Regions from separate parts of the Homo sapiens genome. Here all the other regions are reported to be linked to region 7. Evidence: microRNA targets listed by miRTarBase, many of them from high-throughput screens and not tested one by one. Region 7 holds a microRNA gene; each other region holds the end of a gene's coding sequence.
What was found. The annotated mature microRNA hsa-miR-8485 reads CACACACACACACACACGUAU and lies in region 7 at 2,699-2,719, shown strand. An mRNA with a match to its seed (bases 2 to 7 or 8) in the 3' UTR can be bound and repressed. Matches are read on the target gene's strand: a 7mer-m8 pairs with bases 2 to 8, a 7mer-A1 pairs with bases 2 to 7 and ends in A, and an 8mer does both.

Region 1: the mRNA of TBC1D22A is a reported target of hsa-miR-8485. Seed matches in the 3' UTR shown: 7mer-m8 at 1,878-1,884 and 7mer-m8 at 1,876-1,882.
Region 2: miRTarBase lists CRLF1 as a target of hsa-miR-8485. Seed matches in the 3' UTR shown: 7mer-m8 at 622-628, 7mer-m8 at 624-630, 7mer-m8 at 626-632, 7mer-m8 at 628-634 and 7mer-m8 at 630-636.
Region 3: miRTarBase lists OVOL1 as a target of hsa-miR-8485. Seed matches in the 3' UTR shown: 7mer-m8 at 773-779, 7mer-m8 at 789-795, 7mer-m8 at 791-797, 7mer-m8 at 805-811, 7mer-m8 at 807-813 and 7mer-m8 at 809-815.
Region 4: the mRNA of MDN1 is a reported target of hsa-miR-8485. Seed matches in the 3' UTR shown: 7mer-m8 at 1,366-1,372, 7mer-m8 at 1,368-1,374 and 7mer-m8 at 1,370-1,376.
Region 5: the mRNA of FBXO9 is a reported target of hsa-miR-8485. Seed matches in the 3' UTR shown: 7mer-m8 at 3,478-3,484, 7mer-m8 at 3,476-3,482, 7mer-m8 at 3,474-3,480, 7mer-m8 at 3,464-3,470 and 8mer at 3,461-3,468.
Region 6: the mRNA of ZNF264 is a reported target of hsa-miR-8485. Seed matches in the 3' UTR shown: 7mer-m8 at 2,807-2,813, 7mer-m8 at 2,805-2,811, 7mer-m8 at 2,803-2,809 and 8mer at 2,800-2,807.

Annotation. Positions count from the first base shown.
Region 1 is chr22:47,172,935-47,176,999 of GRCh38, reverse strand. It overlaps TBC1D22A (TBC1 domain family member 22A), which reads right to left. Exons shown (of 13, transcript NM_014346.5): 13 at 1,307-3,502. The coding sequence ends at 3,374. Among named protein-coding and RNA genes, the nearest start is that of TBC1D22A-AS1, 260 kb to the right of the region's middle. RefSeq lists an enhancer at 59-1,149.
Region 2 is chr19:18,589,940-18,593,994 of GRCh38, reverse strand. It overlaps CRLF1 (cytokine receptor like factor 1), which reads left to right. Exons shown (of 9, transcript NM_004750.5): 9 at 416-758. The coding sequence ends at 429. It overlaps REX1BD (required for excision 1-B domain containing), which reads right to left. Exons shown (of 5, transcript NM_001100418.2): 4 at 3,062-3,141; 5 at 1,658-1,887. The coding sequence ends at 1,815. Among named protein-coding and RNA genes, the nearest start is that of REX1BD, 3.2 kb to the right of the region's middle. RefSeq lists enhancers at 438-939, 1,823-2,346.
Region 3 is chr11:65,795,135-65,799,188 of GRCh38, forward strand. OVOL1 (ovo like transcriptional repressor 1) reads left to right here. Exons shown (of 4, transcript NM_004561.4): 4 at 1-2,080. The coding sequence ends at 207. The region is part of intron 4 of LOC124902693; the gene reads right to left. Among named protein-coding and RNA genes, the nearest start is that of OVOL1-AS1, 6.3 kb to the left of the region's middle. RefSeq lists enhancers at 606-1,106, 2,686-3,209.
Region 4 is chr6:89,640,746-89,644,810 of GRCh38, reverse strand. MDN1 (midasin AAA ATPase 1) reads left to right here. Exons shown (of 102, transcript NM_014611.3): 102 at 618-2,313. The coding sequence ends at 806. All of the region lies in intron 1 of MDN1-AS1 (MDN1 antisense RNA 1), which reads right to left. Among named protein-coding and RNA genes, the nearest start is that of LYRM2, 4.0 kb to the right of the region's middle.
Region 5 is chr6:53,097,324-53,101,388 of GRCh38, reverse strand. It overlaps FBXO9 (F-box protein 9), which reads right to left. Exons shown (of 13, transcript NM_033480.3): 13 at 516-3,667. The coding sequence ends at 3,559. Among named protein-coding and RNA genes, the nearest start is that of FBXO9, 34 kb to the right of the region's middle.
Region 6 is chr19:57,212,715-57,216,779 of GRCh38, reverse strand. It overlaps ZNF264 (zinc finger protein 264), which reads right to left. Exons shown (of 4, transcript NM_003417.5): 4 at 1-4,065. The coding sequence ends at 3,799. Among named protein-coding and RNA genes, the nearest start is that of AURKC, 16 kb to the left of the region's middle.
Region 7 is chr2:50,694,826-50,698,890 of GRCh38, reverse strand. MIR8485 (microRNA 8485) reads left to right here and starts at 2,629; the gene lies at 2,629-2,719. The region is part of intron 5 of NRXN1 (neurexin 1); the gene reads left to right.

The DNA of each region.
Region 1 (4,065 bases), not on the chromosome of region 7:
CCAACTGCTGAGCTGCAAACTCCGGGGAATCGTGAAGGTGAATGGCAGTTGCTGGGCTGTGACCTGGAGTCAGGAGCTGAACACCTGGTGGCTGCTGGGGACAGCCGATCTCCGTCCTGCAGCCTACGACCCTGCAGACCACAGCCAGGCAACAGTGAGGTCAGCCCATGTGCCGGGCCACCGGGCCCAGGAAGGCAGCCCTGCCTGGCTCAGCTCCGCACTGGGTCACTGTGGAAAGAGAGGTGAAGAGGCTACTCCCACTTTGTGGAGCCACCAGCCCACCCGTGGGGACAGGAGCACACCCCACACCTACGGGGACAGGAGCACACCCCACACCTGGTCAGTAGTGCGCACCCCACACCCGTGGGGACAGGAGCACACCCCACACCCGTGGGGACTGGAGCACACCCCACAGCCGGTCAGTAGTGCACACCCCACACCCGCGGGGACAGGAGCACACCCCACACCCGCGGGGACAGGGGCACACCCCACACCCGCGGGGACAGGGGCACACCCCACACCCGCGGGGACAGGGGCACACCCCACACCCGCGGGGACAGGGGCACACCCCACACCCGCGGGGACAGGGGCACACCCCACACCCGCGGGGACAGGGGCACACCCCACACCCGCGGGGACAGGAGCACACCCCACACCCGTCAGCGGACAGCACAAGGCAGTGGAAAGCCAAGTGCTGCCAAGGGAGGGTCCCGAGGGTGGGGCACCCAGGGGGGTGTGGGGTACCTGAGGGTGGGGCACCCAGACGGGGTTACTCAGAGGGGTGTGGCGCACCTGGAAAGCTGCCCTGAGAAACTGAGGCCCTTTGAAGGGCCTTGCTTCAGTAACACAGGGCAAGGAGGGTGTTTCAGTGTGTGGGTGAGGGTGAGGCAAGTGTATCCCAGGAGAGGCGGGGGGGACCCCAGACCCTGGTGCCTACCCCGGAACAGCCCTTTTCAAAGCAGGTGCTTGACAGATGTGGCCCAAGGGGAGGTCCCTTGTTCAGGAGCCTGACAGGGGCCAGCCTGGACCCCACACTCCCGTGTTCCAGCTAGTGCAGAGCCGGGCTTCGGGGGTCAGACTGGTTTCTGAGTCTTGCCCCGCCCGGGCAAGTGGCATCCCTGCACCACCTGAGCAGCTGCAGCCCCATCTCCCTGAGAGGTCCTGCGGGGGGCAGCGAGATCACGGGTGCTGCCGGGCCCACGCTGGTGCGCCGCAATGGCCCTGAGCTCAGACCCTCGGCAGGGCTGGGCCAGGGTGCCCCTGTCCTCGATGGGCAAGTCCTCGAATCACAGGCCAAGGCCGCGGCTTTGTCACTGATCTTTATTCCGTGTTTTTAGCGCACCACATCCAGACAGCACACCCCGAACATTCCAGATGGATCTGCTCAGACTTAAGGCCCGCGGCCAACACCTCTCACATTCAGTCTTGGCGTTTACATACATGAGGAAATGCACACAGGGCTGAACTCCGTGGAGCTTCCTGTTTAAAACATCAACCACCTCGAGAAGCAGGTCAGTTGTGTCCGCAGCCTTCTGGCCACACGGCATGATCTGAGCTGGAGAAGGGGATCCTCCCAGGGCTGATCTCGGCAAAGCGACATGGGGCTTCCTGCACACGGCCGAGGGGCGGCTCTTCTTGTGACGGAATCCCCTCCCCATCTAGAAAAGGAGGCGGCAGGAGGAGGAGGCATGGCTGGTCTGAGGAACCCTTGACCCTGGGGTGGGGACACGGAAGGCAGGGGTAAGGCGTGCCCGCATCTGATGTGAAGCAAGCCCATCCCTTTGCTGGTTTGGGAGCATCTGACGTTTGCACAGCATTTTGTGCTAATTTCCATGCTGTGTGTAATGACCCTGGATTTTTAAAACAGAAGCAGAAACACACACATCACTTATGCCTGTATGTCCCACAGTCTCTGGCAGTGTCCTAGGGCCTGGGAGAGGACACGGCTGCTCCTGAGGGACAGAGGAGAGTCTGGGAAGTCAGTCACCAGTGGGTCGCTGAGGACGTGAGCCTGTCCTGGGCTCAGGGATCAGACAGACTGTGGCTGTGGCCCTGCCCGCATTCCAGGGGTCATGCAGCCTGTGACACACCGAGGGAACGCTGGGAAGCCAGTCCCAAGGCCCCTGGAGCCAAGGACACAGCCCTAGCAGGGCGCTGGGCAGGGACCAGCTCTGGGCCCTTCCGCACTTAGAGCCCCAAGGAACCAGTCCACAGCGGGAACCAGTCCAGGGCAGAACCAGTATACAGCGGGAACTGGTCCACGGCGGGAACCAGTCCACGGCAGAACCGGTCCAGGGCAGGAGTGGTCCAGGGCAGGAGTGGTCCATGGCGGAACCGGTCCATGGCGGAACCGGTCCACGGAGGAACCGGTCCATGGAGGAACCGGTCCATGATGGAACCAGTCACACCTCCCCTACACCTGGCAGACCTGGACAAGGACAGCAAGTCCCAGGAAGTCTCCAAAAGCTCATTCCGCTTCCAGGCTGCGGTGAGAAGAGCACTGTGGTTCAGGGCTTTGATGACAGGGACGCGACCCCCTGCCCGTCTGCCAGCCCAACATGGCCCGACAGCCTGGGTGGGCCTCCAGGGGCTCTGGCTGAGGCCGGCGCCTACCTGCGTGGCGGGGCCACTTGGCCCTGGACCTCAGGGAGGTGGGGGTTTCTCTCTTGTAAAAGAGGTTCAAGGTGGAAAGTAAGGCGATGGCGAGGCCTCCCTCTGCTCCCAGCCTTTGGTCCCACGGCCTCCCAGGCACTCGGCGGGCTCACGGCTTGGACTCCAGCCTTCAGCTTCCCAGCCACGTTTAAACCAAGCAAGCAGGAAAACACACGGAGGGAAAGGGCCAGCAGCAGTGAAATACAGCTGTGAGGGGACCTCGCGGCACAGAGACCCCGGGTCAGCGCAACGTCTCGGTCTAGATTTTGTCTACATTTTATTCTTTCACTCAACAGAATAGAAGTTTTGCATTTCAGAGTAGGTATGAGATGGCCACTACCTCGTTCCGGCCCTGGCACCCAGACAGCAGGACTCCAAAGAGGGTCGGCCTCCTAGGCTGCCCCGGACTAGGGGCAGCACGAGGCAGTCATTTGGCAAGGACATTGCAGGGAGAGGGAGAGGGGACCCCTGACCTGCCTCTGGCCGCCGAACCCGGGGCCCTCCCCTGGCTCTCTTTGGTATCTCAGAAAACAAAGGCTGTCCCTGTCTTTGTCAGCCCTAGACCAGGTCTGTGGCCCATCTTCACCAGCTCCCCTGGAGGGTGGGGCCACCTCACAAGGCCTTTTAGCAGCCCGGGACCAGCTCACAGGGGCCTACCACCAGCCAGGCAGGTGGGGCGCGCCACCCGGGACAGTGAGGCCAGCTGCGGGTGGGCCTGGGCTCATTTCTTGTAGTGATTGGGGGCGTCGGCAAAAGCAAACTTGAGGCGGTAGGCCTCGGCCAGCAACAGGCTGATGTCCTCATCATCCCAGTGGGCTGTGGGCAGGTTCTGGAGGAAGAGCAGCAGCTCCTGGGGAGAAAGAGACAAGCCCAGGTCAGAGGAGGTGACCCACGGTGGAGGGCGGGTGACCCCAGAAAACTGGAGGGAAAGATACAAGCCCAGGTCAGAGGAGGTGACCCACGGTGCAGGGCGGGTGATCCAGGAAAACTGGAGAGAAAGACACAAGCCCAGGTCAGAGGAGGTGACCCACAGTGGAGGGTGGGTGACCCAGGAAAACTTGCCCAGCCGGCAGCTGCTCCCTGCTCAACCCCAGAAGGGCCCCAGGCCTCGCCCCACGGCCACCGCCCCATCCCAGCAGCCAGGCAGGAGGCCCACTGCGCAGCTCCAAGTCCGGCATCTGAGATGTCGTGGCAGGGGCCGCCCAGAGCTTCATTTAACTGAATCCCCTGCCCCTCAGGGGGAGACCCAGCTCTCGGGGCCCTGCTGCAGCTTTGCAGCCTCCGCCCAGGAGCTTCCCACTCCCACAAAGCCTGTATCAGCCCAGGAAGTACCGCAGCACCCCTGGAACTGCCACTAAGCACAGATTTCTGTGCACCAGGAGACCCCTCCGGGCACCAGCACCATCAGCAGAT
Region 2 (4,055 bases), not on the chromosome of region 7:
TTCACACCCCCACGCCTCCCAACCCCAGCCTTAGAGTCGCTGAGATGGAATCCGTCCTCTTCCTTTGTTATTCATCAGCATTTACTTAGCACTTACTGTATAACTGGCATTGTCTCCTTTAGCCTAAGAACATTCAATGCCCTGAAAATGTCCGAAGTGGAATCTCCTCCGAAATGAATGAACATACTCACCCTAGTTAGCACGCATGGGCGCCTACTGCATACTGGCTCCGCGCCAAGTGCTTTACCTGCAGCTCAGATAGCCTCGCCAAGGCCCGGAGAGGGGCAGGACCCTGCCCAAAGTCACACAGCCAGAAGCGGTGGGGACAGGACACGAATGAAGCCTCCTTCAGTGGCTCTGTGGTGCGGCCCTCTCCTGGACTCCCTGCTTAGCTTGGCTTCCCCTCTGCCTGCAGGTCCTGCCAGATAAGCTGTAGGGGCTCAGGCCACCCTCCCTGCCACGTGGAGACGCAGAGGCCGAACCCAAACTGGGGCCACCTCTGTACCCTCACTTCAGGGCACCTGAGCCACCCTCAGCAGGAGCTGGGGTGGCCCCTGAGCTCCAACGGCCATAACAGCTCTGACTCCCACGTGAGGCCACCTTTGGGTGCACCCCAGTGGGTGTGTGTGTGTGTGTGAGGGTTGGTTGAGTTGCCTAGAACCCCTGCCAGGGCTGGGGGTGAGAAGGGGAGTCATTACTCCCCATTACCTAGGGCCCCTCCAAAAGAGTCCTTTTAAATAAATGAGCTATTTAGGTGCTGTGATTGTGAAGGTGAGTTTGGGGCCTGCCTGGCCTGGGGTGGGGGCTGTGAGATTTGAGGGGAATGTGAGGCGTCTTAATGACCCTTTGAGATTAGAATTTTCACCTCCCAGGACTTCAGACTGTCTATCCAGTATTTGCAAGGTCTGATTCTGAACTCCTTGGAGAATGTGATTCAAAATACCTGAGCTGGCTGGCTGCAAAGGCTCATGCCTGTAATCCCAGAACTTTAGGAGGCCAAGCTGGGAGCACTGCTCAAGGCCAGGAGTTGGGGACCAGCCTGGGCAACAAAGGGAGACCTCATCTCTACTAAAAGCAAAAAATTGGCCAGGCGCCATGGCTCACGCCTGTAATCCCGCCACTTTGGGAGGTTGACATGGGTGGACCACATGAGGTCAGGAGTTCAAGACCAGCCTGACCAACATGGAGAAACCCCGTCTCTACTAAAAATACAAAATTAGCTGGGCGTGGTGGTGCATGCCTGTGATCCCAACTACTCAGGAGGCTGAGGCAGGCGAATCACTTGAACCCAGGAGGTGCAGATTGCAGTGAGCCGAGATCGTACCATTGTACTCCAGCCTGGGCAAAAAGAGCAAAACTCTATCTCAAAAAAAAAAAAAATTAACTGGGCTTGTGGTGGCATGTGCCTGTAGTCCCAGCTACTTGGGAGGCTGAGGCAGGAGGACTGCTTGAGCCTGGGGAAGTCAAGGCTGCAGTGAGCCACGATCTCGCCACTGCACTCCAGTCTGGGTGACACAGCAAGACCCTGTCTCAAGCAAAAAAACCTCAGTTTCTAGGGAGGGTGGGAGTCTTCTACCCACAATCCCTGGCCCTGTGGGGGCCCCCTCCCTAGGCACACTGGCTGCAGCACCCTTGTACACAGAGATGGCAGAGCGGCTACAGAGGAGGAGCTCTTTATTGTGGGAGGTGTCTGGAACTGCAGGAAGGTCAGCAGCGCAGTGGGGCGCAACCCCAGCCAGCTGGCAGTTAGGGCTGGGCTGGGCGCCATCCGCCCCGTTTCCCATCTCCCTCGGCGCATCCCTGGGGAGCCGCCATCACTCGGCAGATTCCGCATCAAACCTAAGGTCCTGGAGAACCTCGCTGATCGCCTCCATGGTTTTAATTACCCTACAAGAGCGGATGGGAACTATAAATAAAACCCAGATGGGGTGAATTAGCTGCTGCCGCGAAGCTGCAAGAGGGCTGTGGCTGTGGTGAGCCCCAGGCCCTCCTGCCCGCCGCCAAACCTCCAGGCAGCACTAGCAGCAAGAGGGAACACTTAGGTGCTAGGGAGAAGGGGTGGCCCCATAGGTCACAGTGGGCTGAGAGAAAAGGCCATCTGGGCTGGGCATGGTGGCTCACGCCTGTAATCCAGCACTTTGGGAAGCTGAGGCAGGCAGATCACCTGAGGTCAGGAGTTCAAAACAAGCCTGGCCAACATGGCGAATCCCCGTCTCTACTAAAAATACAAGAATTAGCCAGGCATGGTGGCGGGCATCTGTAATCCAAGCTACTTAGGAGGCAGAGGTTACGGTAAGCCAAGACCGCACCACTGCACTCCAGCCTGGGTGACAGAGCAAGACTCTATCTCAAAAAAAAGAAAGAAAAAAGAAAAGAAAATAAAGGACCAGGCGTGCTGGCTTACGCCTGTAATCCCAGCACTTTGGGAGGCTGAGGTGGGCAGATCACGAGGTCAGGAGATCGAGACCATCCTGGCCAACATGGTGAAACCCATCTCTACTAAAATACAAAAAATTAGCTGGGCGTGGTGGCACGCGCCTGTAGTCCCAGCTACTCAGGAGGCTGAGGCAGGGGAATCACTTGAACCCGGGAGGCGGAGGTTGCAGTGAGCTGAGATCGCGCCACTGCACTCCAGCCTGGTGACAGAGTGAGACTGCATCTCAGAAAAAAAAGAAAAGAAAAGGCCATCTTGGTGGGGTGTGTACCATTAGGAGGTTATGAAGTGTGACTTTGTCAAATGTGTGTGTACATGAGTGTGTGTGCTTGGGGGCTGAGGACAGGCATCTGAAGGTCTGTGCTCAGTGGGGCATGTCCAAGCTCCACGGACAGCCACGTGTGCAGGATTGGCATGTGTCGAGGTATACAGCAGTGTCCCAGCAATGCACAGCGAAACTGATGTGAAGTTTCACGGCTGTGCCCTCTGGGGAAGTGTACATCTGAGGGCCACCAGGTGAGAACACCATTGTGCACTGGCAGAGGGTTCCTCTGCTGGCAGCGTCCTGACCGTGCCAACCCTGGTGCAAATCGAGCATAGCCAGGCGGCTTGGGCAGCAGCGCTCACTTCATTTTCAGCTGCTGCATCCGTACAGCGTCCTCCTGCCCCGCCAGCTCTGGCGTCTCCATCAACTGCAGCAGGGCCACCTGGTGGGGGAATGAGCAACACGAAGGATGTCTCCACGAGCAGAACCCACCCCCTGCCCTCCAAGGATGTTCAGGAAAAAACAGAGGCACCCAGAAAGGCAGTGCCCGGGTAGAACCACGAGGGGCAGTGCTTTGTGTAGGAAGAGTCCGAAATTCAGTTTAGAGGCTCTCTCAGAAAGGAGACAGCAGGCAGGCCAGAGGCAGTGCTGAGCGCGATGTGGGCGTGGCCTGGGAACAACAGTGACGTCTTAGCCAGGCATTGGCCGTAGGGGTGGGTTAGGTTGCGCCTCATGGTCCCAGGGACGGGGACCCAGGATAAAAGTAGGCCAAAAAGCCTGGACGCGGTGGCTCACGCCTGAAATCCCAGCACTTCGGGAAGCAGAAGAGGGCGGATCGCTTGAGACCAGGAGTTCGAGACCAGCCTTGCCCATATGGCACAACCCCGTCTCTACTAAAAAAAATACAAAATACAAAAATTATGCCTGTAATCCCAGCTACTCAGGAGGCTGAGGCAGGAGAATCGCTTGAATCTGGGAGGCGGAGGTTGCCGTTAGCCGAGATCGCGCCATTGCACTCTAGCCTGGGTGAGAGAGCAAGAGAGCAAGAGCCTGTCTTAAAAAAAAAAAAAAAAAAAAAAAACACCAGAAAGAAAAAGGCCAAAGAGACGCTGAGACGGGTCGCTCATGGGGGGCGTGGCCTAGGAATTCCAGTCACACACGGTTGCAGGGCCGAGCAGGCGGATCGCAAGAGAGAAATAGGCAAAGAACTAAAGCTGTGATGGAGGAATAATACGGAGGAGGCGTGGCCTGGGACCCCCCTCGCCTGTATCTACGGGAGGTTGAGGGTGGGACCCTAGACGCGGAACAACCAGAGTGGGTGGAGCATTGTTGGGGCGGGATCTGGGCATCTTGGAA
Region 3 (4,054 bases), not on the chromosome of region 7:
CAGCAGAAGTACGCGTACAAGGAGCGGCGGGCCAAGCTGTACGTGTGTGAGGAGTGCGGCTGCACATCTGAGAGCCAGGAGGGCCACGTCCTGCACCTGAAGGAGCACCACCCTGACAGCCCGCTGCTGCGCAAGACCTCCAAGAAGGTGGCCGTGGCACTACAGAACACTGTCACTTCCCTGCTGCAGGGCAGCCCCCACCTGTGAGTGGCTCGAGCCCTGGGGGTGCTCCTGGAAGCCCCAAGAGCATCCAGGATTGCCTCCCAGCTGCCTGGCCAGCCCACCCTCCTGCAACCTCTCACCCGAACACCAGTGATCAGGACTGGAGCCCCCGTGCCTTGGTCTCCCCCCTGGGCACACGTGCTCACTCAGGCCCAGCAATGACCTCTGCTCATTTTTGCATTTTTGACTTATGGGCCGAGGCTGTTCTGAGCCTGGGAAGATGTACCTATGTCAAGAGAAGGGATGAGGCCAAGGCTGCCTTCAATTAGAAGCAGCCGCCCACAGAGACAGGCACTGTGTGCCTGGCAGCAGGACTTCCTACCCAGAGGAGGTTCGAGCTAGGATCCCACTGCCCCCGCCTCTCAGCACAGGGCAGGGGCTGCAGGTCCCCAGTGGACATCAGAGTCAAAAGCACTGGCAAAGGGTACCCCTGCAAACAACTGTGGTGGGGGCTGGCAGCAGACCCCCCACCTGGCAGGGCTTCTAATGCTCAGGGTTCTGGAGGGCTCTGTCCTTCCGGCAAGGAGAGGCACACATGTGTGCCCAGCCGTGTGTGTGCGTGTGCTTGTGTGTGTGCACTGCTGTGTGTGTGTGCACGCACAGGAAGCCTTTCCACATATCACCTCATTTCTAAGAAATAAACTACAAGGTGCCAAGAAGGTTTTATTTCCTTTTATTTTTTAAAGATGACAAATGTACAGATGTTAATATATTTTTGGTGCCAATGGCGATGTTTTTAAGAGTGGGATGGAGCTGGCTTTTCTCCATTCCCGTGCGCTTCTATTTATCCTGGACATTTCAAACCTCCTCTGTGCCTTGGCTCTGGGCGGGGGCTGCCCCAACCCACCCCCGTTCTTTGTACGTGCTGAGACAGCCACTAGAAGATCTTCCTCCAGCGGCGCCCTGGACGGCTGCTCCTGCGAACAGCCCATGGCATCTTCTGCTCTTCCCTCCCGGCTCTGCCCTGCACATCCTGTTGAGCCAAGCCCCAGTGACCCGGAGAGCTGGCCTGATGCTGAGAGTGTGTCCTCCTGGGGCTTTAGGGGGCAGGAAGGTGGGACGAATGACGATGCCCATCCACTACCTGAAGCACTAGGACACTCTTGCAGGGCCAGGCTGGAAGACCGGCCCTTTTCTTGGTTGAGTCAAAAGCCTTAGCACAGTGGCAAAAAATGGGACAGAATGATGACCAGCACCTCAGAAACTTCCAGAGGGAGGAGAGGATTTGATGGCTACCAAATTGTATCTGTTGCCTTTTTTCTGACTTTTTCACCTGACCAGGCTGGGGTTTGGAGTGGCTGTGGGGAGACCCGTCCTGGCTGGCTGGCTGGCTCCCTTGCTCCCTTGCTGCAGCTGGGAAAGGGGTTCTGGGTGTAAAGAGGTGTGCGTCTTGTGGGCCAAAGGGAAAAACAGGCAGGGGTCAGAGCCAGCCTGCCAGAGGCAAATGCAAAAGAGGTCCCCAGAACACAGCCAGCTGGGCAGCCCCTTAAAGCCAAACCCCACCTGAAGCAGAACCACTTTGGCCTCCCCTGCCCAAAATGGGTAGTGTCTACACGTCCCCGGGCTCAGGCTCAGGCCCAGCCCTGGGCTGACCTGAGAGGAAGGCTCCTTCCTGGACTGCCCTCTGAAATGTGTATAGATTGATTCTAAAATCTCTTGTTTCACTTGACTTTAGAGTGTCTGGGACGCTGCTGTATTCTGAAAGTCACATAGCACACAGTAATGTTATCTGGAAGCTCTGTTTTTGTTTACATTTCTGTATCCCTGGGTTGACTGCCAATCCGAGGCCGTCATGAAGCTCTGTGTTGTCTGTTTTATTTTATAACCTTCCTCTCAACTATTAAAATTAGAGATCTAATGTTTTCTGTGTTTCCGATGTTTTTGTCTTATGGGCCCCTTTTTCCCCATGCAGAGAAGTAATGGAAACAATTGACACATTCTTATCCAAACCCTTCCTCGTTACGGTCACTGGGGGGCCCTGGTCAAGACAAGAGCCTGGCCCAGATAGCTTAAGTGACCTGCCCAGGGCCTCAGACAGTCACTGCCTGCTGAGTCCTGGTTTAGCATGCTCTGCTCTCAGCAGCGGCAGCAGCGGGGCGCCCTGAGCTCCATCCATCAGCCTCATACTACCCTGCATCTACCTCTGCCAGGCCGAGACCGCCAGGCTTTATGTAGTCACCCGGGGATCCAGTCTTGGCCTCCCAGGACCCTCCCAGGGTTAGACCACAGAAGGAGCCACAGTCCCAAAAAGAGGGTGCAAAGCTCACATCACTTCTGGTCAGACACTTAGGGACGGCCACACTCTGTGTCCACACACCTAGGGACAGCCATATGCTGTGTCCATGCACCTAGGGATGGCCACACCTGTGCCCACGCACCTAGGGACAGCCACACTCTGCATCCAGGCACCTAGGGACAGCCACACTCTGTGTCCACGCACCTAGGGACGGCCACACCTTGTCCACGCACCGAGGGACAGCCACACCTGTATCCACACACCTAAGGATGGCCACACCTGTGTCCACGCACCGAGGGATGGCCGCACCTCTGTCCAGGCACCTGGGGAGAGCCACACCTGTGTCCATGCACCGAGGGATGGCCACACCTGTGTCCAGGCACCCAGGGACGGCCACACCTGTGTCCATGCACCGAGGGACGGCTGCACCTGCACAACCCTTGTGCTGTGCCATGCACACTCAGAAGTGTGTTATGTATATTGGCTCACTTGACTCAACTCGCTTCTGAGGCAGGTTCTGTGACCACCCCCACCCTGGCAGACAGAATTTGGGTAGCTGACACAGTGTCTCACAACTGACCAGCAGTGGAGCTAGGCTGCCACCCGCCTGGCCTGGCCCAGGGTCTGCTCGGTAACTGCTCACGCTATGGATGGAGAAAGCAGGAAGGGACGTAGGGTCCCTCTAGGCAATTCAAACTAGGAAATTTGGAGCTTGCCTGGCTTTCCCTATCGCTTACCAGGATTGCTCTGGGAGACTGATCTCTTTGGGGGCCCTGGTCCCTGGGTCCCAATTCGTGTTTTCCACCATGGCCTGGCCAGATGGATAAGAAAGCTACAGGTCTGGGACGCTGGTCTTGTTCCAGGAGGCGTGGGAAGGGTTGGTACCAGGCGCTGTGAGGCGAGGGAAGACATCCTTTTCCAAGGCTCCCTGTAGCCGCCCACAGGACTAAAAAGGGCCCCAACCAATTTTCTGTCTCTAAATAGCTGGCCATGAAGGATTTCTCTTATCCAGAGAGGCCTCTCTGTGAAAGGCCAACTAAATCCCATTTCCTATCCCAAGACGTGCATCCCGCTGTTGGGAACCCAGGGGACTACCCACCACATGAACTTCAGGAGGCAGGACAGCCTCCAGGAAGCAGGGGCAGTGTAGGGGTGGAAGAGGCTCCCTCTGAGCCTCTGTACTCCCTCCCATGCCTCAGATGAGCTCAGGTGGGTGCCGTGCCCTGTGCCACCCAGAAGAGCTCTTCCCTAGCAGGGCGGGGCCAGTCACATTTCCAGGCCCAGAATATTCTCCAGGCTCTGTTGGATTGTAGCTGTGAGGGAAATGAAAAGTGTACAGGGCTCTGCTGACTGGGAAAAAGAGAGGAGATTATCTAACCCAGAACAAATGGCGTGGCCAAACTACAAACACTATGGAACCCAAAAGCAGTCTTTTGCATCAGAAAGAACAAAGGCTTCTTGGAAGAGGTGGGTCTGCGGCTGGGCTGGAAGAACAGGAGGATGTGAGTAGAACAGAGGAGGAGGTGTTTCGGGGAAGGAAAGTGGGCTCAGACACCAGGGGAGATGAGCGAAGCCAGGAGCGGGGTGGAAGGCGTC
Region 4 (4,065 bases), not on the chromosome of region 7:
CCACTTTACACTGAAGGAACTGAAACACATAGAGGTTATAGGTAATGAGTGGGAGAGCCAAGATTCAGAATGACCATCCTCTGTGGGTCATCATTTCCCTCTATGCAAAGTCAGTGCAGGTATTGCAGCCTTGATAATGGGTACTGACCACTTTGAAATGGAGATTAGGTGTTGCCACACTTAACTTATGTCTCAGTAGCTCCTCACAGCAAGAAGCATCAATCATCTTAGTGAAATATGCCTATAGGGCAGTTCTGTTCCAGGGAAGCATTGTCTCTGTGGGTCACATTAAGGCCTTGATAGGAAGGTAAAGATTTAGTGTGAATGATTCCAAGTGGATGATGGGGAGACACCACTGTAGGGAAAGCAGATTTTCCTGTCTATCCCTTTTCCTTTTTTTCAGTGTCCATCCTCCTGGAAGGGGCACTCAGAAAGACATCTACCTCCTTCTTAGTAGAGTTCTGAAAATTCTCTTTTACTTAGTAATAAAAGGTAGGTTCATATGCAGGAATAAGACACAGGAGATGTAAAAGTTAGCAAAAGAGATCACAGAAGAGCTAGCTAAGGATGCTGGTTTAATCGCTGCCTCCCCATTTCAAAATGTCTTTTGTTGACAGGATTCTATCTTGGACATTAAAGTACCGATATTTAAAGGACCTGGAGAGATGCCTGAAATCCGATCCTACATGGAAGAGTTCCCATTCCCATACTATATCATTCTTCGAGATGTAAACGCACTTCCTGAGACACTCAGCGATGCCCTCAGACAGTGGTTTGAGTTGGTGACAGCCTCTGACCACCCATAGAACAGAAAGAAGAGTCCAAAGTGAGACTTAACTGTGGTCAGAAGGTCACATTGCTTACCCAGGTGCTCCCTTTTGGACAACTACAAAAAATTTTATTGTAATATTTTTATTTTACAACGTGATCTTACAGCCTACAGAATGCTCTCTGGCTCCCGGCTTTGCCTGGGCTGAGGTTTTTATACCAAACCTGGAAGCAGCAGCAGGTGCCTGAACTCGTAACTAGAGAAGAGTTATCCTTCTTCCCTGCCTTGGAAGCCCTGGCCTGGGAGGAGGTCATACCCCACCGTTGGAGCCCAGCTGCCTGTTTTCTTTTGCAGGGGATCTGGGCACCTGTGCCTTGAGGAGATGCTGCCAGGAGCATGGGACTCTGACAGTCCTTTGTATAAAGGACTAAAGGGAGCTGCCCTTTTGACCCTGTTCTAAGCTCTGCCTTGCCAAGCCCATAGTGTGTGCCCAAAAGCTGTCAAGTGGCCAAGACAGCTCGTTTCTGGAGAGTATGAGGGTGTGTTTTCTTATTGTGAAAGGAACTACCTTCTCTTAGAGGGTAGGAAGAATGTGGTGTGTGTGTGTTCTCATAAAGCAACTGGACATTATAGGTGCCCAGGTCATCTATAAAAACGATCCTTGGGCTGTGTAAAAATGAAGTGGCTTTTCAGTATCCTCTTTCACACTTGCTGCTTCGGGAGACTATGCAATGATGGGAAGGTGATTGCCCCTTTATTTCATTCAGTGCCATGGTCCCTGTTGTTGTAGTAATTTATTTGTTTAGTTCATTTTTTTTTTTCTTAACAGTCAAGGGGAAGAGTGATTCCTCACACTGCTTTCAAGCTGGACTGAGCCAGTCTCATTCTGGGAAAGAAACGCTGTGTCCAGAACTCAGCAGCTCCATCTATTTTTTCCAGTCGAAAGAAACTGATCTTTAGGCAGTTTTTACTTGGCCAGAAAGCAGTGCTGAATACTTGAAACTGTGTGCTCTGTTCTACTTAATGTTCTGTCAGAATGTTCTTTTGTAGGCAGTATGTCATGATGTAATCATCTATCTCCTTGTCTGTTTCCAAGTTACACTGTGAAGTCTGCGACCCTTTTGAGGTGGTCATCAAAGACACAGATTCCTTGTTTAACCAAGTGTCCCAAAGCATGTACCTGAAGTTATATCATTTTTTATTCTAAAAAGCTATGCAGCTTATATTCTGAAAACTATTAAAACATATACCACTGTTGTTGATGTAATTTGTGACTCTTCTTAATGGAAGATGACAGGATTGTAAAAGGTATGCTAGGGGACTGATCTTCTCTGCTGGATCAGTCAGTCAGCTGTTACTAGTTGATGCTGTGCTAACATGATCCCCTCCTACTTCCATGTTGCTCTTACTACAAAGGTTATCATTTGCATTTATGTCCATGGTAGGCTGAGCTATAATATGCTGGCTTTGCAGCAGAATGAAAAGGATGAGTTGGTGTAGCCTTATAAGGAGGCTTATAAAAATTAATTATCCTCCATAAATGATGATGTTGCATCCCACTCACATTTCATTGGCTAAAGCCCTCTATGGGGCAGGGAGTTTAATCTTCCAGTAGGGTTGAGTCTGGGAGGGAAAGACACCAATATTATGACAATGCTGCAGTCTATTACATCTGCCTTTGGAAGCTCCATCTTTCTTAGACCTCAAACTGGTGTGCCCAGAGTGATTCCCTTGGCCCTGGGTTAGCTCATGAGATCATGGACAGTAGGAATTCCAGGAAGCAGGAACCCAAGAGTGCCATTTTCAACTTGTGCTGCCAACAGGGGCTTGCAGGAGTAGTGATCAATTAATCTGCCATGTTGATAGTTGACATTTGTGCTATCCTGCCCACCCCCCCCTCCCCCAACCCCCCAGGCCTTGGCCAAATAGGTAAGTAAGTAAGTTCTGATATTTAAGGAATGGACAGCAGAACACAAAAGTCCTCCATGCTGTCTTAAAAATCTCACTTTGGGGCTGGGTGCAGTGGCTCACGCCTATAATCCCAGCACTTTGGGAGGCCAAGGTGGGTGGATCACTTAAGGTTAGGAGTTAGTTTGAGACCAGGCTGGCCCATATGGTGAAACCCCATCTCTACTAAAAATACAGAAAATTAGCTGGGTGTGGTGACGCGCACCTGTAATCCCAAGCTACTTGGGAGGCTGAGGCAGGAGAACTGCTTGAACCAGGAGGTGGAGGTTGCAGTGAACTGAGATTGTGCCACTGCACTCCAGCCTGGGCAACAGAGCAAGACTCTATCTCAACAACAACAATAAAATCTCACTTTGGATAACTTCTTCACCACTCCCGTGGCCTCCACCATCACTGAAGCAAAAGGACTGTAAAATTCTCCATCCAGGGGTCCAGGAAATCTACTCTTTGGTATTCTTAATTATATTCAGACATCTGCTGGATGTCACTGTGTTCTAATTCCCCTATTCCAAACCCATTCCTTCAACATTCCCCATCTGGGATGACCACTCCAACAGCCACCCTGTTTACAAACTTGGGACTTAACCTATACATCTGCTTTACTTCCTTCTCCATCTCTATCCATACCCCAATCAAATTAATTAATCATCTTGTCCAGTCAGGCTTCTGGATATCCTGTCCCATCCCTCCCCCTCCCCCTACTGCACTGTGACTGGGACTCTTTTAATCTCTAGCAGGGACTACTTCAATGGTATCCTGGCCAGGCCAGTAACTTCTCTTTGCTTGCTTCACTTCATCCTATTCACAACATCCAAGATCTTTCTAAAAGTTCTGTAGCTGAAAATCCCTTCAAAGCTCTCCCTTGTGAAGAGGGTAATATTCAAGCTTCTTCATGTGACCTGTGAGGCTCTTGCTTGACTCTCCTGTCCCTCCTCTCCCAGCATTCCTGCCAGTGTTTCCATGTGTTGTCTGGAATCCTCTTAGTGATTCTGCGTTTCTGACAAATACCTAGCTCAGACAAGCCCTCCAGGAAGAATAATTTCCCACAGTATGAACTGCAGCATTCTTTGTTAGCACTATATTGAACTTAGAGGTTTTCCTGCCCAAAGCATGAGTCTTTGAGCAAGGAGCATATGTGACTCACGACAGCATTACCAGTGTCTAGCAAGAGTGAGCCCTTTTTTTTTTTTTTTTTTTTTTTTAAATAGAGCTTTGCTCTTGTTGCCCAGGCTGGAGTGCAATGGCGCAATCTCGGCTCACTGCAACCTCCGTCTCCCAGGTTCAAGCGATTCTCCTGCCTGAGCCTCCCAAGTAGCTGGGACCACAGG
Region 5 (4,065 bases), not on the chromosome of region 7:
ACTGGTCACAGTGACCAATGGATGGTCACTGTGAAACTGGGATCCCACTGCATCGCCTTGGCTTCTGTTTCTGCTCTGACTGCAATTGGATTCTGTGTGGCCAGAGAAGCCTTGCAAGCCTTAGCCCATACATGTCATGGTTGCCAACTTACCTAGAGCTGTTGCTGACACTCAGCATCCATCACTGGGGAAATGACTGGCCAGGTTTTAAGATCCAGAGCATGAAAGCATCAGATAAAGGAGACAGAACTGGAAGTGTTTCACTGTATGACTGAAAAATCACACATACATGTGAAAGGCCAGGATGATTAAAATCAAAAAGTGAATAATGGATGAGGTGACTACAGGTAATTTACATTTTATTCTGTCTGCTCATCTATTTTCCAGTTTTTCTACAGTGTATACATTATTTACCAAATGTATATTTTAAGATATTTTAAAATGTTCACTCTTTGATTCAGTCATTCTACTTCTTAGAAACATCTTAAAGTAATAATACAAGAAGTATGCAAAGATTTAGCCACAGGAATGTTTATTCCAAAAACGTTTACACTACCATTAAATTAGAAAACCAAAATGCGTAAAGAGGAGTATAAAGTTGGACTCTAAAGTCATTAAAAATATTTAACAAAATGCTTACAGGGCATTCTTATGTGGGGAGAGAAAGCTTACAAAGCATTCTGTACAATATAATCCCATTTTTATAGATGCACAGAATAATCAAAAGATAAATACCATAGGTTGAGAGTGGTTAGTAGAGGGCCTGGGATTGAGGATTCAAGGCTAATGCTTTCCCCTGGGGGCTGGGGGTGTAACTGAAGTCTACACTCCCAGCCCCCATGGGCCCCAAGCACCCTCACCTGGCCCTCTGCTAAGGGGTAGGAAGGGGGCTGGGAGGAAAATGCAAGACAGGAGGAGGCAATTAAACATGATGGTGCTCAGGCCAGATTCCCTCTGAGGATATCTTCTGAACACAGTTCCAGCACGATCTGAAATGTAATTTCTGTAAAATGCTTTCATTGTTTTTAAAAAGTTAATCCAGATACTGCTGTCAGCTTTTCATAGTATTGGTTTCTGTAATGTCCTAATAGAGCAAAGGAAGGACACTCCTGAAGTTAAAAAGTTTCTACGGCAGGATTTGCAAAGACCAGAAGAAAAAGGTTACATAGCAAAAATTTTCTTCTGGTTATCTTTGGGTGTTTTTTTAAATTTTATTTTATCTGTATATTCTAATTTTCTCACAACAAATATATATTGCTTTTGCATTTTACAAATATACAGAAAATGTAATCTGGAAAAAAGTTACTTTTTCCAGTTCTAAGTTAAATAAGTGAAAGTCACTTTACTGCTTACAAAGAAATCTTTAAATTTGAACTTGGTATCCACCATCTGCAACAGATCATTCAATCTAGGGATGTTGCAGAACAACAGGGACTCCTCAAATCTCACTTTCCTTAGGAATATATTTTTCTAGCTATATTTGACTATGTCCTAATCATGTTCTATTTATTTGTATATCAGAAATAACAGTCATATCATGAAGAGCTACCTTATCTTAGGCAAGTTGCTTTTCTCCTTCCTTTCCAACTTGAAAAACACACTTCTCAGATTGCTACAAAAGGCCAACCTCTCTTTTTTTTCTTTTTTGAGACAGGGTCTCGCTTTCTCACCCAGGCTGGAGCACAGTGGTGCAATCTTGGCTCACTGTAGCCTCAGCCTCCTGGCTAAGTGATCCTCCTGCCTTAGCCTCCCAACTAGCTGGGACCACAGGTGTGTACCACCATGCCTATTTTTTTTTTTTTTAATTTTTAGAAGAGATGAGGTCTTGCTATGTTGTCCAGGCTGGTCTAAAACTCCTGACCTCAAGCAATCCTCCTGCCTTGGCCTCCCAAAGTATTGGGATTATAGGTGTGAGTCACCACACCTGGCCAACTCTCTTCCTTCTGTATGCACATTTCACCTTTAACATAACGTGTACTATCATCATTATTTTTTTGAGATAGGGTCTCACTGTGTTGCTCAGGCTGGAGTGGAATGGCACGATCTTGGCTCACTGCAACTTCCACTTCCCAGGCTCAGGCAATTCTCCTGCCCCAGCCTCCCAAGTAGCTGCGACTATAGGTGTGCCCCACTGTACTTGGCTAATTTTTTTTTTTTTTTTTTTTGTAGAGACGGTGTTTTGCCATGTTGCCCAGGCTGGTCTTGGACTCCTGAGCTCAGGTGATCTGCCTGTCTTAGCCTCCCAAAGTGCTGGGATTATAGGCATGAGCCACCACGCCTGGTCTGTATGTGCTTTTTAAAAAGCCTATCCCATACTGAATTGTGGGAACCTATGAAGTGTCTCTTAATGTCAATTAAAAGTAACAGTGGCTGCAGATATTGATTTCTGAAAGTACATGAGAATTTGTCTCTAACTATGGTTGAAACAACAAAACCAAATCTGAATCAGGTAGAGGTCTACCAGACACAAACTCTGAAATTAAACACTAATAGGACTGTTACTGGGCAGGGGGGACTCCTTTGAGTAAAAAGGTAACATACAGTTTTCCTAGGTGGCTGGTGCTCTCCCCCAACTTTCATACTGGAACAAGAGTTAGGCTCAGGTTTACATGATCCTCTACTATTCTTTTGTGAAGAATGACAACTGAGTCAGTTGGTTGAGCTTGAAGTGTTCCAGTCCTAAGGGATTCACTCTCACTTAATGTCATATATTGGTAAGGTGCCTACATGAGGTCAGTGTTTGTGGCTACATATAAAGACCAATGATGAAATGAGGAATTATTTTTTTTTCTTTTAATAAGGGATGGGGTCTTGTTATGTTGCCCATGCTGGACTCAAACTCCCAGACTCAAATTCCTGGGCTTAAGCTATTCTCCTGCATCAGCCTCCCAAATAGCTGGGACTACAGGTGCATGCCACCACACCCAGCTAGAGGCAATGATTCTTAAAGTCTCCGCTGGCTATCTAGGACTCTTATTAAATATCCTGTTACTTTAAAAAGGCCATCCAAATATATTTTCTTGAAAGAAACATTTATTTATGATCTTTATTGGTGAAATAATTTCAAACAAATCCAGAACAGGTTCTCACACTTTGAGCCTTTAGTGCAAAAACATTATGCCATGCGGGAAATAAAATGCTTATCCAGTGGAGCGCTCCCCTGATGCATTGAAATATTAGGATACTCAAGCAGAAGACGACTTATGTGACAGAAATCTGCTCATAAATCTGCTTGAAAAAGGGCATGATAAACCTCATATTAAGGTTTCTCACAACATAAATATGCTTAAGCAACTTAATTCCAACTTAATTTCAAAACACCCCAGGAATCAACTATCCCTTTAAATAAAAAAAATAATCAATTTATATTCTTCTTAAAAGAACTCCAACAATTTAAAATAAGTTCCAATTCCATATATATATATATATATATATATATATATATATATATATATATATATACACACACACGCACACACACACATTTATAACTTAGGTGCTCTTTTGCGCTATATACTTTAATTCATGCAAAAGTGATAGAGGACTGGACTTGAGGCTCTACAGAGGCCTTTCTGAGAAAGCTGTGTAGCTCCTTACTCTGGCGAAGAACAAGGGGGTGTACATCTTGTCAATCTCAAAAGCACTGACTGCAGTCTCACCAGTTGATCTGTAAAAAAAAAGCACAAAATTACTAGTATGAGGAAATTTCAATTCATTTAAAATCCTTGTGTGTTTGGGGAAGGTTATTCTATGCTTTAGCCTTTTTTATTTTTAATTCATCTTAGGAAATTCTATATAATATAGGCATATTGTAGAAAACTCGAAAAATTTAGAAATGTATACAGAAACATCACCACAATTCCAACACTCAGAGCCATATGAAGGATATTTTCTAGTGTTTCTTGAGATCAAACTTAGTAATTCTTTTTATTTCATTTAATTATTTGTATTTTCCCACATCATTATTTTTCAGAAACCATTTTTAGTGGCAGGATGATATTTCACTGTCTGCTTGTACCACAGTTTACTTAATTGGAGATTTAGGTTGTGTCTACTATTTCTCAA
Region 6 (4,065 bases), not on the chromosome of region 7:
ACACTTAAGCCCTAAAATATCAATAATTATTTTAATGTAAATCATTTCAACATACCAATTAAGAGAGACATATGCAGAATGAATAAAAAAAGCATGGCCTGAGTATATGCTGTTCAAAGAAACTGACTTCATAAGTAATGATACAGGTAAGCTTTAAAATAAAATGAAGAAATATTAACCATGCAAACATTAATCAAAATATGCAGGAGTCACTATGAGAACATCAGGTAAAGTATTGACAAGACTATTAAAAGGCAAAAAAATGACATCACATAATGACAGAAGAGTCAATTCACCACAAAGACTTGGCAAACCTACATGTATATGTACCAAACAATACAGCTTTGAACTTTGCAAACAAAAAGTGATAGAACTTGAAAGAGCAACACACTTCCACAATCATGTTCAGGACTTTTTGTTGTTGTTGTTGAGACAGAGTCTCGCTCTGTTGCCCAGGCTGGAGTGCAGTGGTGAGATCTCAGCTCACTGCAACCTCTGCCTCCCACGTTCAACTGATCCTCCTGCCTCAGCCCCCCAGCAGCTGGGATTACAGGCACACGCCACCATGCCTGGCTAATTTTTGTATTTTTAGTAGACAGGGTTTTGCCATGTTGGCCAGGCTGGTCTCGAACTCCTGGCCTCAGGTGATCCACCTGCCTTAGTGGTCTCAAAGTGCTAGGATTACAGGCGTGAGCCACTGCACCCGGCCTATGTTCAGGACTTCAACACCCCTCTCAGCAACTGACAGAAATGCTGGACAGAAAATCAGCAAGGACATAGCTGACTTGAATAACAATGAGCAGGATCATAGAGACATTTATAGAAACTCCACCCAGTAACAGCAGAACACCCATTCTTTTCAAGCAGCTATACGAAACAAGATAGACCCTATCCTGGGTCATAAAAAAATGTTAACACATTTAAACAGTCAGATCAAACATGGAACAAATTAGAAATCAGTAACAAATATGCCAAACACCAGAAAATTAAGCATACTATTAAATAATTCATGGCTAAGAGAGAATGTCTCAAAAAATAAAAACTATTAGAATTAAAATGTAATGAAAACATTAAAACTTGTGGGATCAAACCAATAGTGATATGAGGTAAATTTATACAATGTAATGCTTACATTAAAAAAGCAAAAAAATCTCAAATCAATAATCTAAAACCCCACCTTGAAAAGTTAGAAAGAGCCAAATACAACCAAAGCAAGTGGAATATAATACCGATCAGAGCAGAAATCAAAGAAATCAAGAATAGAGACAAATCATTAATATAAAGTGCTAGTTCTCTGAAGTGAGAGATGAAGCAAAAATTACATCTTTCAGCATGATGCGCAATAAAACTGATAAATGTCTAAGAAGACTCAATCATAAAATGAGTATGCACATTTTAAATATTAAAAATAAAAAGAAGTGCAGATCCTGCTATCAAAAGAATAAGGGAGTGCTACAAATACAGATGAAATATTCCTTCAACAGGACAGACTATCAAAATTTATTACACAAGAAATAGATACTTCGAATAGTTCTACCTATCCAATAAAATAAATATGTAATTTAAAAGCCTCCAGAAGAAAAATCTCTGGCCCAATGGTTGACTAGAGGTCATCAAACATGACAAGAACAAATAACACCAATTCTACACAGTCTTCCAAAAATTAGAAGAGAACTCCTTCCAATTCATGTTGAAAGGTCAAGATCACCTAGACATCAAAACCACACATAAGACATTTAGAACATAAGAAACAAAAGAAAAAAGAACTACACATTATTAGCCAATAAATTAGAGGAATATTTCCTCAACAAAATACAAACAAAGGGAATGATGTCAAATGATATATAAAAACAATTATACTCTACAAACAAGTATGGTTTATTCTAAGGATGCAAGGCTGGCTCAATATTCAAAACTTGATCAAAGCAATACATTCCATCAATAGGATGTAGAAGGAAAATAGCATAATGACATCAACTGGTGGAGAAAAAGTACTGAACAAAATTCCACACTTATTCATAGCAACACAGAGTCTCAGAAAACTGGGAACAGAGGAAATTTTTTACCCTTATAGAGGACATATGTTTTATAAAACTTACATTATACTTCATGATGAAAAACTGAACATGCTGTGCACTGTGGCTCACGCCTGTAATCCCAGCACTTTGGGAGACCCAGGCAAGCAGGTTGCTTGAGCCCAGGAGTTCAAGACCAGCCTGGGCACCATGGTGAAACCCTGTCTCTACCAAAAAATACAAAAATTAGCTGGGACTGGTGGTGCATGCTTGTAGTACCAGCTACTGGGGGGTGGTGAGGGCTGAGGTGGGGGGATCACTTGAGCCCAGGAACTTAAGGCTATGGTGAGACAAGATCGTGCCACTGCACTCCAGCCTGGGTGACAGAGCGAGACCCTGTCTCAAACAAAAAACAAAAAAACAAAAAACTGAACATTGTCCCCCCTACTATCAGGAACCAGGTAAGGATGGCCTTTCTCACTATTCCTATTCAACGCTATAATGGAAGTCCCAGCTTGTGCAATGCAATAAGACAAACAAAAAGGAAATAAAAGGTATATTACAGGTAAGATGAAAGATAAAAAATGGTCTGTATTTGCAGATGACATTTCTATATAGAAAATTCCAAGGATTCTGTCGAAAGAAATAGCTAAAAATAATAAGTGAACTCAATAAGGTTGCAGGGTAGCAAAACAATGTCCAAAAATATTATATTTCTGTATACTACCAAAAATTGTGTGCAATTCAAAGTTCAAACATCAATGCCATTTACAATCACTCAAATTACACACACACACAAACAAAAAAGCACCCTAGGATGCAAATTCTAACAAAAATGCATAGGGATCTATACGCTGAAAATTTTTAACATTAATGAAATACTTTAAGGAATGCTTAACTATTATAAATTAAGAGGCCTACTCCTGCACTCATGAACTACAAGACCCAACATAGTAAAGATACCAATTCTTAACAGATTAATCCACAGACTTAACTCAATTTCTGTAAAAATCTGAACAAGACTGTTTTGTAAATAAGTACAAACTAATCCTAAAAATTATATGGAATGTCAAAGGAACTAGAAATGCTGTCGATTTTAAATAAGAGCAAAGAAGAATCACTTTACTCAATTTAAAAATTTACCACTGACATTTTGAGCTAAGTAATTTTTAAAAATTTAACAAATAAAAATTTACCATATGGCTACAATGATGACGTAAACCAAAAGACGGGCATCAAGACAAAAGCCTGAATGTTAACATGTGTATCCTTACTGACTTAAACGTGAGTATTTCATGGCTCAAGCCCCCTAAGTTGTCATAAAGTTATGCTTCTCAAGAGTAAGTACTATTGTGGAATACAGAAGATGTGCGATTAAAGTTTGCATACTTTTCCTAAACTAACTGTTCTGACACTGGATAGCAATAAATGTACATACAAGCACATAAAGGGTCAAGGTTCTTTACCTTGAAACATTTCCCTTCCCCCAAATACACTAAGAAATCCATGACAAAGCGCCATAGGCTTGGCAGAGAAGCCTGAAAAGATGTGTGCTTGCATTTCATTTTTTCTATGTCCCCTCCTCCTTTTAAAAATAATTCCTGAGATAAAATTGCACTGTAAACTAAGGAGAAAGATGCAGCTGAAGGTTCTCCTATGTGCACAATAACCACTGGGTCTCTCTCCAGGATAAATTATCAGATGGAGAATAAGGCTCTAGACTGAACGAATTTCTAATATGACTCTTCAGATGACAAGTAATATTCAGCAACAGAAGGTTTTCTCACAGTGAAGACACTTGTGGGGTTTCTCTTTGGTATGGTTGATCAGATGCAGAGGAAGATGTTTCCTCTGGCAAAATATTTGCCTCAGTGGTTACATTCAAAAAGTCCTTCCCTAAAAGAAGTTCTCGAAGGGTAACTGAGGTTTGTCCACTTGTAAAAGGTCTTCCCACATCTGTTACACTGATGGGATTTTTCCCAGTATGCATCCTTTGATGCTGAGTGAGGGACGAGCTGCGACTGAAGGCCTTTCCACATTCACTACATTT
Region 7 (4,065 bases):
GCTTTAAAGTGTACTTCAAACATGGAGAAATGAGAAAGAGAGAAACAGACAGACATTTCATAAACAATGAATAGCAAAAGCATGGATATCAGGAAAGAGAAAACCTTCTTTGAGGGCAATTTTAACTGGAGAAGAAAGTTCTACTGGATGTTTTCTAGGGAATAATGGAGACTAGTTGATGAGATTCTGTTTCAGTGGTTTTCACATTTTTGGATTCAAGATCCCTTTTTACTTTTTAAATGTATTGAAAACCTCTGAGAAGTTTATGTTTGTTGTATAGGTTATGTATATGTATTAGTGTTTACTCTATTGAGAATTGACTGAGAAAACATTTATATATTTATTAATTCATTTTAAAATAGCCACCACATTGCATGTTGCATGTTAAAATAAATTGTGTACTTTTATGAAAAATAATTATATTCCAACACTAAGATAATTTTGTGAGAAGAGTGACTTATTTTACATTATTGACAATCTCTTTGATGTTTGGCTTAAGAGAGCTAGATTCTCACAACTACTTCTGCAGGCAATCTTTTGTGATAGCATATATCCTTTGGCCTCTAGACAGCACCGTTGTATATTTGTGAGATGATGAAAAAGATTTTGGCCCTTGGCCCTCCCGAAAGTCTCAGGGACTACCAAATGTCCTTGGACAACATTTGAGGACTTCTGTCTTATACTGTCAACGAATATCTACTGAGCACCTACTAAGTGCCAGCACTGCTGTACGGGTGGGAAGTACAGGACAAACAAGACCATGACCCTGCCCGCACAATGTTTACTTTCTCATGAGAGAAGGAGGATTCTAAAGTGAAACAACTAAGATGATTTCAGATAATGATAGGTGTTATGAAGAAAATTAGACTGGTATTAGGATGAACTGTAGTGTAGATGGGGTTGTGTTGTTATTTAGAGCCAGATTAACGAAATTGGCTCAAGGCAGTGACTTTAAGTGAGAGTAGCAGGAAGTGCAGCCGTGTGAAGAGCTATGGAGAGCTGTCTACTTTGGGGGAACAGCTGGTACAAAGCACCAAGGTAAATTGAAGAGTTAAAGGAACAAAAGTGCCAACCTGGAGGCAGAGAAAAGAAAGAAAATGAAACAAAGATGTGGGCAGAACCTATTTTATTTGAGGCCTTGTAGACCATGGCAACCCAGGATTTGAATTATATTCTAAATATTATTTGAGGATTTGAAGAAAAGAATGATGTAATCTAATTCACATCTTCAAAACATCACCATAGTTGAGAAGTGAAGCATGGGCTACAGAAGAGCAAGGAAGGGAGAGAGGAGACCTTTCAGGGGAGTGTCGCGTTAGGTTCGGATGAAACCACAGAGGAAGTAACAGGCAGTCATTACGTTCAAGATGAAGGTACAACTGACAAAACCAATACATTAATTTTCCTTTCAGTCTGATTAAAATCCATTTCTCTATCTGACCATTTCTCTAACTTGTCAAGTTTCACTTTGAAAGATGCTCCAGTATTTCAAGGTCTTAACACTCTTTCCAACTTTTGTCACACACAAATTTAATGAGCATCCTCTCTCTTAGACATCATTGTAGCATATTAATCATATACTGTCCTAACTTACCTTATCAGCTTGTGACAATGAGTCTTTTCTAAAAAAACTTTTCCTGTATATTCAAAATGAAGACTAATGAAGTTTATTTATACAAGCTAAAAATATAACACTCAGAATTACGTGTGCAAAATATTCCCTGTAAAGTATATTTTATTTCTCTTTTTCACTTCCCATCTGCCCCTTCCAAATACATCTTTGTCTTCTGGTTGTTGAGAGGTTGCAGGGTATTCATATTGTCTTATTGCTGGTACAGTAGGACGTTTGTGTATGACCCAGCTTTGTTTGTTAAGGTGCTTGAAGTAAGTAATATGCTCTCAATGAGACAAAAGCAACAATTTGGAAACAAAAGTGGAAATTAACAATGCCACTGGTTTCTGTTTAAAGAATTTATGTATCAGGCTTTCATTGTGAATAAACTCAGTAAGCAGCTACTCAAATGATGTGATTACATGGTCTAGGAATATACTCTTGGTCTCCAAAATGACTTCTCTATGACTCCTGGTAGTATATGAAACTTAGTAATTAACACTTTCTACCATTTAAATCAAATAAATATGTTTATCTCTGTGAAAATTCAGGTATTCTTAAGAGAGCCTCACTGATCCTCACCCGAAAATTCATGCTTTGGTTTTAATGGGTGTGCTTGCTGGTTTCTCTACAGAGAGCTGCTTTGACAGTTGCAAGATAAAAGAAGAAATAGTTGCTCAGAACCACAAAGAAAATAAATAGACATTGGAAGAAGAGGCATAAACAGTTTTCTCCGCCTGCTTCACCCCATTGCCTTGGCTTTTCTTGTCTTTCTTCTACCTTATCACGACCTTCTTTAGCAAACTATGATTTAGCTTAGAGGAGAAGCATGTTTAAAGAGTTGTAAGACAGGTTTTCTTTTCTAACTCTCCATCAGAATATTACTTACTTCTGAGACTGTTTTTCTTATTTATAAGAAAGGAGATTTATAACACTGTCAGCTATCTGTGTGAAGAATTATGTACATTTCAAATTCTCATTTTTTCATATGTATAGAACATTTTATGGTCTTCAGTTCTGTGATATACGTGTGTGTGTGTGTGTATATAGCATATGTGTATACATACACACACACACACACACACACACACACACACACACACGTATATGTACTGTCTTTTAAAATTTCCATAGTCGACTGGGTGTGGTGGCTCTTGCCTGTAATCCTAGCACTTTCGGAGGCTGAGGCGGATGGATCACCTGAGGTCAGGAGTTCAAGACCAGCCTGCCCAACATGGTGAAACCCCATCTCTGCTAAAAATACAAAAATTAGCCAAGCATGGTGGTGGGCGCCTGTAATCCCAGCTGCTTGGGAGGCTGAGACAGAAGAATCGCTTGAAGCTGGAGGGCAGAGGTTGCAGTGAGCCAAGATTGTGCCACTGCACTCCAGCCTGAGTGAAAGAGCGAAGCTCCATCTCAAAAAAAAAAAAAAAAAAATCAGAGTCACTCTGGTTAGGCTTATTTCCCTAATCCTTTGGAATATTAGTAAAACTGAGGCTCAAAAAACTAATGCACAAAGTCATATGGATAAAAAGCGATATCTAACCATTTATCTTCAACTCTTCCTACTATAGCACGTCGACATTTATTACCGTGTTCTAGATAAAAGCCTTCTTAGAACTATTAACATATTTCACATATTTTAATCTCTCAAATTTTGTTTCTCGTTTTGTACAATAATTTGTGCTCCTAGAGGAAAGCAAAGACTTAGTCTAATCTCTTTGTCAAATGGAAATAGACTAATGTTACTTACTATGAATAAGAGACTATATCTCTGTCCCTAGCAAGATGTCTCTGGCTAAGGGATTACCCATAGTTAATAGAACCCAGGATCTATGAGGCAGGGCTACCTGGAGCATATGACATAAGGTACACCACTTTATGTTATATGATGCACCTTATCTGAACTTGATAGCTTATATCCTTGAAATTATTTAGCAAAGCTTGATGCTGGGCAAGATCTTTAATTCATGTGAGTCTGATTTGACAATCTAATCCTCACATTTGTCGGTAAATAATACAATTAAAATATTCTGAAGGAATCTCAAGTACAAATACCAAAGATAAGATGCCTTCCCCCCACCGCCACCCCCTTACCCAGGTTGAAATGTTACTGATAAAATATGTTGGTAAATAGTCTCCCTACTGCACTGGTGAAATCAAAGCCACCCTTAAGCAGTGAAGATGGCTAATTTAATTTCAGTAGTTATAAATCAAAATTAAGCCTAGGAAACTGGACCCATAAATGGCTGCAGAGAATCCAGCTGTGTTTATTCTAAAGGCACTCCCAGATCAATTTGCATGGAGGTGATTTGGCTATGAGATAAGGGAACTGTCTTTCAGCCCCATCAGTTAGAACAGTCACCAGGATCTAAAGTACCCAATCAAGAGAATACCCCGCAATTAATTTTTTATAAGCCAAGGAAAGACTATTGCTAAAATGTAGAATAAAG